Regions from separate parts of the Homo sapiens genome. Here region 2 is linked to region 1. Evidence: fine-mapped expression QTL. Tissue or cell type: fibroblasts. Region 1 holds a variant in brackets; the other region holds the start of a gene. All regions are shown on one strand. Distances are between the middles of the regions.

Region 1 (4,249 bases):
GCAAACCAACATGGCACGTGTATACCTGTGTAAAAACCTGCAGGTTGTGCACGTGTACCCTAGAACTTAAAGCATAATTTTTAAAAAGTGGATTATGAGCTTCAAATGGGCAGTTGGATTTTGAACCTAAATGCCACAGACAGCAACGGTTGGTAGAGAGGTGGGCTCAAAAATGGAAGGGAGGGACTGTGGAAGGGAGAAATGGAAGAGGTAAACAGTGCTGCCCAAGGGGAGACCTCAGAGGCCCTGACCTGCTGGGTAACCTATCCCGTAGCAGAGACACTGAAAAAAATATTCACGTGGCCAATTGCCTACCACTGTAGGTGGCTCTCCATTATGCCAGGGGCCTGGGAATTCCCATTTCCTTGGACCAAGAGTGGCTTGAGCAAGCTAGTTGGAAGACAGCATAAAGGAAGGGTTAGCAGCTTGCTATTAGGAAAATACTTCTAACTTATAGGGCAGAAAAGGGCAAGACCAATACTCCCCTAGGGAGAGGGCTATAACTCATATATCCCTCAGAATCCTAGAGGGAATGTCAACACAAATACTCCAGATCATATGGGGGGTGGCCAGAATACCAATGTTGAAAACTCAGAAGGCCCAAGTTTCAGCCAACAAGGGTCCCTTCACCAAATCCTGAAAACCCTGGGGCACCCAGAATGCGGCCAACAGTCAATCCAAGACCAAATTGGGGTCAGCAAACAACATGACTCTAGCATCCCGAAGTAAAAACAGTGGGGATCTCTCACAACCAAGTATCCTGCCTTAATCGTCCCCAAACAATTAACAGAAAGGTAAAACCAAACATAAGACTGCACACATTTTAGGACTGAAAATAAAATAACTAATGGAACAACACAATGGAGTCCGAAGAGAAAGTACTCAGGGAAGGGGTGACAAGGACATGCTCTAGCCAAAGACGTTTATTTCATTTCCTAGTTCTCCTGATACTATGGCGATGGGGGCATAAGGGACACTCACCTGTCCACCAGAGCACATATGGTGCTGACTGATTTTCCCCATGGGACCCAGGTGAAGATCTCGCCAGGATACCTCAGCTTGGGTGGACTTAACTGCCACAAAGGGTGGGTCCTGCACAGGGGGGGCCTGTAACCCACTGGTCGGCCAGTCAGACAGGTGGGTGTCACATAAGGTGGTGACACTATGGCTGCCCTGCCAGTAGGCTCAGCTGCCGCAGTGGGAGGGGCCTGCACTGTGTCAGTAACCCACCAGGCTGCAAATTTTCTGAACTTTTATACTGTGCTTCCCTTATAAAATTGAATGCCTTTAACACCACCCAAGTCACATCTTGAATGATATACTGCTCAGAAATTTCTTCTGCCAGATACCCTAAATCATCCCTCTCAAGTTCAAAGTTCCACATATCTCTAGGGCGGGGGCAAAATACTGGCAGTCTCTTTGATAAAACATAACAAAAGCCACCTTTGCTCCAGTTCCCAACAAGTTCCTCATCTCCATCTGAGACCACCTCAGCCTGGATTTCATTGTCCATATCATTATCCGCATTTTGGTTAAAGCCATTCATCAAGTCTCTAGGAAGTTCCAAACTTTCTCATATTTTCTTGTCTTCTTCTGAGCCCTCCAAACTGTTAGAACCTCTGCCTGTTACCGAGTTCCAAAGTCGCTTCCACATTTTCGGCTATTTTTTCAGCACCATCCCACTCTACTGGTACCAATTTATAATATTAGTCTATTTTCACCCTGCTGATAAATACATACCCGAGGATGGGCAATTTACAAAAAAAAGGAGGTTAAATGGACTTATAGTTTCACCTTGCTGGGGAGGCCTCACAATCATGGCAGAAGGCAAGGATGAGCAAGTCACATCTTAGGTGGATGGCATCAGGCAAAGACAGAGCTGTGCAGAGAAGCTCCTCCTTATAATATCATCAGATCTCATGAGACTTATTCACTATCACAAGAACAGCACGGGAAAGACTTGCCTCTATTATTCAATTACCTCTCACCTGGTCCCTCCCACAACACCAACCATGCTTGGCTAAGTTTTTAGTTCTAGTTTCATAGAGATGGGGTCTCACTATGTTTCAGGCTGATGTCAAACTCCTGGGTAAAGAGACCCTCCAACCTCAGCCTCCCAAAGTGCTGAGATTACAGGCGTGAGCCACCAAAGCTGGCCCGTTTTTCTTGATATATCAAAATTATTCCATACAGTCAGATAACTTTTCTTTTCTTTTCTCTTCTTTTTTTTTTGAGACGGGGTCTCGGTCTGTCGCCCAGGCTGGAGTGCAGTGGCGCGATCT[G/C]GGCTCACTGCAAGCTCCGCCTCCCGGGTTCACACCATTCTCCTGCCTCAGCCTCTCGAGTAGCTGGGACTACAGGAGCCCGCCACCACGCCCGGCTAATTTTTTGTATTTTTAGTGGAGACCGGGTTTCACCATGTTAGCCAGGATGGTCTCGATCTCCTGACCTTGTGATCCACCCGCCTCGGCCTCCCAAAGTGCTGGGATTACAGGCGCGAGCCACCGCGCCCAGCCAGTAACTTTTCATGTGGTTACTAACAGCCATGGATTTCCCTGTCCAAGGTACCAGTTTTTCGGTTGCATTTCTCTATATACTCATAGCCGTGGACACTGTCTACCTGTCTGATGAAATTCAAGTAACCTTTTCATTAGGTTTAACTTCCAAGAAATCTAAATGGGTTTCTTATAAACAAAAGCAATCACACTATAGGAAATTTTTCTTTACCTTTCTCACAACTAGCCTAAAAGACAAAAATAAAGATTGTACATGTTATCAAGGCAATTCCTTCCTTGTCTTAATTGGGTTTTAGATTAGTTAGGAAAAGAGCTATAAAAGGGTTAATGTTTTTACATCTATGTAACCTTCTGTATTGCTATTATTTAACAGTGACCCCTGATTCTGTTTGATTGAGTGTTTTGAGTCTTCTGACATCTTTGGCAGGTTTCTTCAAGATTAAAAACCTATATTAAGTCTTTTTGGCCTAAAACTAACTTCGGGATTTTGAAGGTTGACCCCTGGAAACCCTCAAAAATATTGCCTCTTACCTTATAGAGATTAAATGGTTAGACTTATCTGGTAAAATATATGGGCGACATTTTACCACACAGGGCACAAAGGATATCAAGTAATAAGTGATGGAAGATCTTTCAGTTACACTTATAGGTATGTTATTGATATAAATGTTCCTGACATAAATGTTCCAAAAATCATATATATTGATGAAAATCTGTTGTCAGCCATACTTTTGTTTTGTTAAATATCTTCTAAAGTTATATTCATATAAATATGTTATAAATGTAAGTATTCTAAGATTATATACAACTTATAAAGATCTCAGGGACCTGATGCAAAGCTGTAAGACATGATTCTGGTTGTTATAAAATGCTACATATAATAAATATAACCAAATTTTCTTATGAATTGGGAACTTTTGTCAGATTTTAACCGTGGTTAGGATTAGCACAGTGGCTCATACCTGTAATCCCAGGACTTCGGGAGGTTGAGGTGGGAGGATCTCTTGAGCCCAGGAGTTCCAGGCCAGCCTGGGCAACATAGTGCGACCATGTCTCTACAACAGAAAACAAAGTTAGCTGAATGTGGTGGCATGTGCCTGTGGTACCAGGTACTCAGGAGGCTGAGATGGGAGGATGGCTTGAGACCAGGAGGTCAAGGCTGCACTGAGCCATGATTGTGCCACTGCACTCCAGTCTCAAAAAGATTAAAAAACAAAATTTATAACAGTATTACTGTTCCCTCAAAAGCTACTCCTACAGGAGTGGCACAAAGGATATCAGGAAAAAAAAAACCCTCTTAAATGCTATTCCCATTGTCTTCCCACAGAAAATTGCCTGGTCCATTATCGAGTCATGAAAACAAACAAAAAGGATAAACCAGTTCCTTATTACAGAGCTGGACTAAAATCTTATATATAAAACCATTCTAGGCTTAAAATACATAATGAAACAACTGAAATGCCTTACAGCCTTTTAAATGAATAAACTCTTAACAGAGCTTGGAGACCAGATTAAAAAACATAAGATTGGATAGAAAGTCATTGATATGACCCAATTGGTCACTACGAGTAAGCGCTTTGAAAGACTTTTAGAATCATAAAAAATGCTAAAAGAAAGAATAAACAGGCTAATAAACTAATATCTTTACAAGTACAAAAGCTACAGGAACAGACCTCCTTATATCTGTTATAACTCAAAACTGATATGTCCTAAACAAAGGAAACCTGGGTAAGCTC
Region 2 (4,249 bases), 25 kb before region 1:
AAAGTTAAATCTGGGCAGGGTGCAGTGGTCACATCTGTAATCCCAGCACTTTGGAAGGCCAAGGCGGGTGGATCACTTGAGATCAGGAGTTGAAGACCAGCTTGGGCAAATAGCAAGACCCTTATGTCTACAAAAAATATATATATATATTAGATGGCATGCTTGCACATACCTGTAGTCCCAGCTACCCAGGAGGCTGAAGCGGGAGGATTGCTTGAGCCCAGGAGTTCGAGGCTGCAATGAGCCAGCCATAATCGCACCACTGCACTCCAGCCTGGGCGACAGAGTGAGACCCTGTCTCTCTCTCTCTGTCACACACACACACACGTTAAATTTGTTGGATTATATATTTCGGGGGTTGAGCACTTTTCGTTATAAAATATTTATGATTGTGGGAACAAGTTAATAAAGACATGAAAGTTATTTAAATGTCCCAGAACTTTAAGAACAAAAAGCATTCTTAGTTTAAAAATAAGTTTTACTTTAAAGGTAACAGTACACACATAAATTGTTGTTAAAATCGACAGTAACAAAGAGAAGTAACAATACTAATAGCCTGTCACAAACTGATTCTTAATAACCTATATAAACAAACATTAAGCCCGGGCGCCGGGTGGCTCATGCCTGTTATCCCAGCACTTTGGGAAGCCGAGGCAGGCAGATCACTTGAGGCCAGGAGTTCCAGACCAGCCTGACCAACATGGTGAAGCCCAGTCTCTACCAAAAACACAAAAAATTAGCCGGGTATATTGGCACGCACCTGTAATCCCAGCTACTTGGGAGACTGAGGCAGGAGAATCCTTGAACCCAGGAAGCAGAGGTCGCAGTGAGGCGAGACCATGCCATTGTGACAGGAGAGAAACTCTGTCTCAAAAAAAAATTATATGTTTACAACAGGTGCATTTCTCCTCTTGCTTTCTGAGGACGCCCTGCTATGTAGCTGAGTAGTCACTAATAAACTATCTTAACTTCACTATACTCTGTGACTTGCCAAAAGGTCTTTCCCATGTGAAATCCAAAAACCTGTTCTTGGGGTCTAGGACAAGACCCATTTTATAATGACAAAACTATACAAATTCTAGAGGGAAACATAGAAAGAAAGCTATGTGACCTTGCGTTTGGCCATGAGTTTTAACACGACACTATCAGAGGCATTTGAACCCCTCCTCTATATGAACTCCAGGGTGGTTTATGTTCCATTGGCTAAGAGAAAGTTTTCTTCAAAAATGTGACATGATTTGAGGTCAAACATTAATATCAAGTAAACTCAAAAGATTGAGAAGCTAGCATTAGTTCTGGGAAAACCAGAAGTGTGCCTTTTTTGGAAATAATCATTGGTAGCACAAACTTAAGAATCTCCAAAGGAAATAAAAATGAGTTATTAACTTACAGTTTTCACCAATTAAGATATAAATGAAGCTAACGAAATCCGGAAATACAATTTCACTGTTTTTAATGTTCATTAAAAAAAAATCCTTATCAAATAGCCCCAGTAAGTCACCAATTAAGTCTTTACTACTTAAAAGCAAAATCCACCTATGTCCTGAACAGTATCCACTTTACGAGCCTCATTATATGTACGAGATAAAATTCAGAAATAAATAAATATACATGTATACGTATACAAATATATTTCAAATTAAAAAATACTTTTAGATAGTGGTATGTATTACATTTAGAAATTAATAACGAAGTAAATTATGGGATGTCATCCACGCCTGTCCCAAAGGTACCGAATTTATAAATCATCTCAGGTGCGGAGCAGGACAGGTTGAAAATAGGAATGACATGAACCCGCGCGGAACAGCTGCCGGCGCGGTGTCCAGGGCGGCACCCCGCCCGGTCCCGGCCCCTCCAGCCCTGGGCCCGACCCCTACTACGCCTCTGCCTCGACGCGAACGCGGAGCCCGAGCGCGCGTCACGCCGTGTGGGGCCGAAGAGGCTGCTACCCAGAGGCGGAGTGCGGGCTCGCGAGGGTCCCCACCCGACTCTCGCTCCCGCCAGCACCTACGGACTCGCGTCCCCGCCGCGCGCCGACTCGGGAGCAGCACCGCCCCCGGCACAGGAGCCTCACGCGCCTCTTACCTAACAGGAAGTTGGGTGGAAGCAGCGCGGACCCACGGCACACCGAACGCACTCCAACAGAACCCGACGCAGACACGCGCTTTCAACCGGCGGAGACACTGGCAGGGCCAGAAACGCGCGCAGCGGGGGCGGGAGGTCGGTAAGCTCCCCGCCCCTGCCCGAGACCCCGCCCCGGCCCGGCCCCGCCTTTTTCTCTGCCTCCCCTCCCTGCACGTACGGGCCCCGCCCCTCGCGCGACGTTTTTTGTTGACCCGGAAACGGATTCTCCGGAGCCGAGGTCCGCTCGGGTGAGTGCCCTCCGCTTTTTGTGGCCAAACCCAGCCACGCAGTTCCCTTCCTGCGGCGTCCTCCACACCCGGGGTCTGCTGGTCTCCGCGGATGTCACAGGCTCGGCAACCGCCCTCCTGTCGGCGGGGAGTCCCGCGACGCCCGGAAATGCTCCGAAGCCTGTCGCCCAGCTGCCAGATCTGCGTCTGTGTCCGGTTCCGTCACTGAGGTCGCCCCTGTCCGGCCCTTCCACCCTAGTTCTCTTCACCGTCCGCCCATCCTATCGCGCGCGGCCTCAGGTCCCGATTCGGCATGTGGCTTGTCTTCCATCGTCCCCACCCTCGCCCCTCTTGGCCCCTCAGGGCAGCCCTGGGATTCGGCAGACGCCAGTCCTCCCTGAGATGCTTCCCCATCCTTCCCTCCGCCAGGCCCTACGTCTCCGCAAACCCCACGCTTCGGGGTGGCCGCCTCAGACAGGACCCTGAGTCCGAGACTGGGGTAGGGGACCTGCCCGATCCTGTAACAACCCTCGTGCTTCTGCACAATCGCCTCCCACTAGCGGTGACTGTTGGGTGTTTACCTTCCCGGTGTCCCACTGAGAAGCGGGCTCTTCCTTGGCAGGGGCTTCTTCATTGCCTCGCTGTGGATGTCGAGGTGGGGCAGGAGAGTGAGGAGAAAACAGAGGAGGGAGGTAGAGCCAACGAGCGAGAAAAGGGGAGGGAAGTTTAGATGGGAAGTGGATGGGTCTGAGGAATTTGAACAAACACCGACAATGAAGGAGAGTGACCTGAGCAAGTAGTAGTGGGGTAAATGGAAATAGACAAAATGGGAATCAGCAGAGATATGGAGGACAGAATACAATGAGGAGGCCTTGACCGTCAGTAGCAGAGAGGGCAGCAGAAGCCTAATTCCCAAATTCTTTAGATGGTTTTCTGATTTCCAAATTAGTTTCCCTTTTAAATTTATTGTGTCAGGTTCAGCTTATGAGGCCTCAATACTTTTCAGTCTTAATTGTATATTGAAAATACTTTTTGTTTACTAAATGCTTTTTACATTAATTCAGTGTGCACTTCGTAAGGATAATGATGATTTGAGTTAGTTTAGTATTCAACAGCTTCCTCTATTCCTTTATATGATCTCTGTATTTAATGGCTGTGGCATAAAGTTTCCAACTAAGTTTAAGTATCAAGTTTTCTTTGTGCTGTTTTCTGCAAATATTGAAGGATGACCTGGATTGTCCTAGAACTTTGTTCCAACAGATTACATGTGTTCATAATGAATAGACTGCTCAAAGATATTTCCAAAGCTCACCTTTTATGTTTTTCAGTTCCAATAATTACATCTTTTTAAGGTTTATATTTTTTGATGACTTAATGTGATGTTCTGGAGAAGACAAATGCTTTTAATCAATATGATTAAAACCGTGAAAGACAAATCGCTGTTACTTAAGAGTGTGACATATGATCTGAAATCTTTAGGGGGCAGGGATGTTAAGGGAAAACTGCCACTATCGTATTAAGGTCATGCCATTCCTGTGAAGCTGGTGCTTGTTACTCTCTACTGGCTTCTGTTCACCTTTCCACCGGCCCCAAGACACACACATAGTGACACAAGGCAGTGGACAGGGAAAGAGCAAGACTTTATAAAGTAAGCACACAACAAAGGTATCTTTCTAATGAGGAGGAGGTGTTGGTTCTGGGAAGGAAGCTTGGGATTTGGGTATTCAGGATCCAGAAGTGAGAGAGCCTGGGAAGTTCAGGAACCAGAGAAAGAAAAAGCCTTGCCCATTCTCACCCATGACACTGTGCTCAGCAGGTACTAGCAGACTTCAGGCTCTGTGACTAAAAGGGGTCAGACCAGTTGATATACCCACAGCTGCCATGTAAGGATGTGTGTG

Evidence for each region. PIP is the estimated chance that this variant, and not a neighbour inherited with it, causes the effect.
Region 2: it holds the start of ZNF596, and the variant in region 1 is fine-mapped to the expression of ZNF596 in fibroblasts (GTEx, PIP above 0.99).

What each region holds. Positions count from the first base shown.
Region 1 is chr8:254,747-258,995 of GRCh38, forward strand. It overlaps LOC101927566 (a long non-coding RNA gene), which reads right to left. Exons shown (of 5, transcript XR_245320.4): 5 at 3,521-3,568. Among named protein-coding and RNA genes, the nearest start is that of ZNF596, 24 kb to the left of the region's middle. The variant G/C (reference allele first, on the strand shown) is at 2,283.
Region 2 is chr8:230,044-234,292 of GRCh38, forward strand. It overlaps ZNF596 (zinc finger protein 596), which reads left to right and starts at 2,413. Exons shown (of 6, transcript NM_001042416.3): 1 at 2,413-2,651. It also overlaps the pseudogene RPL23AP53. RefSeq lists a silencer at 2,180-2,279 and an enhancer at 2,300-2,619.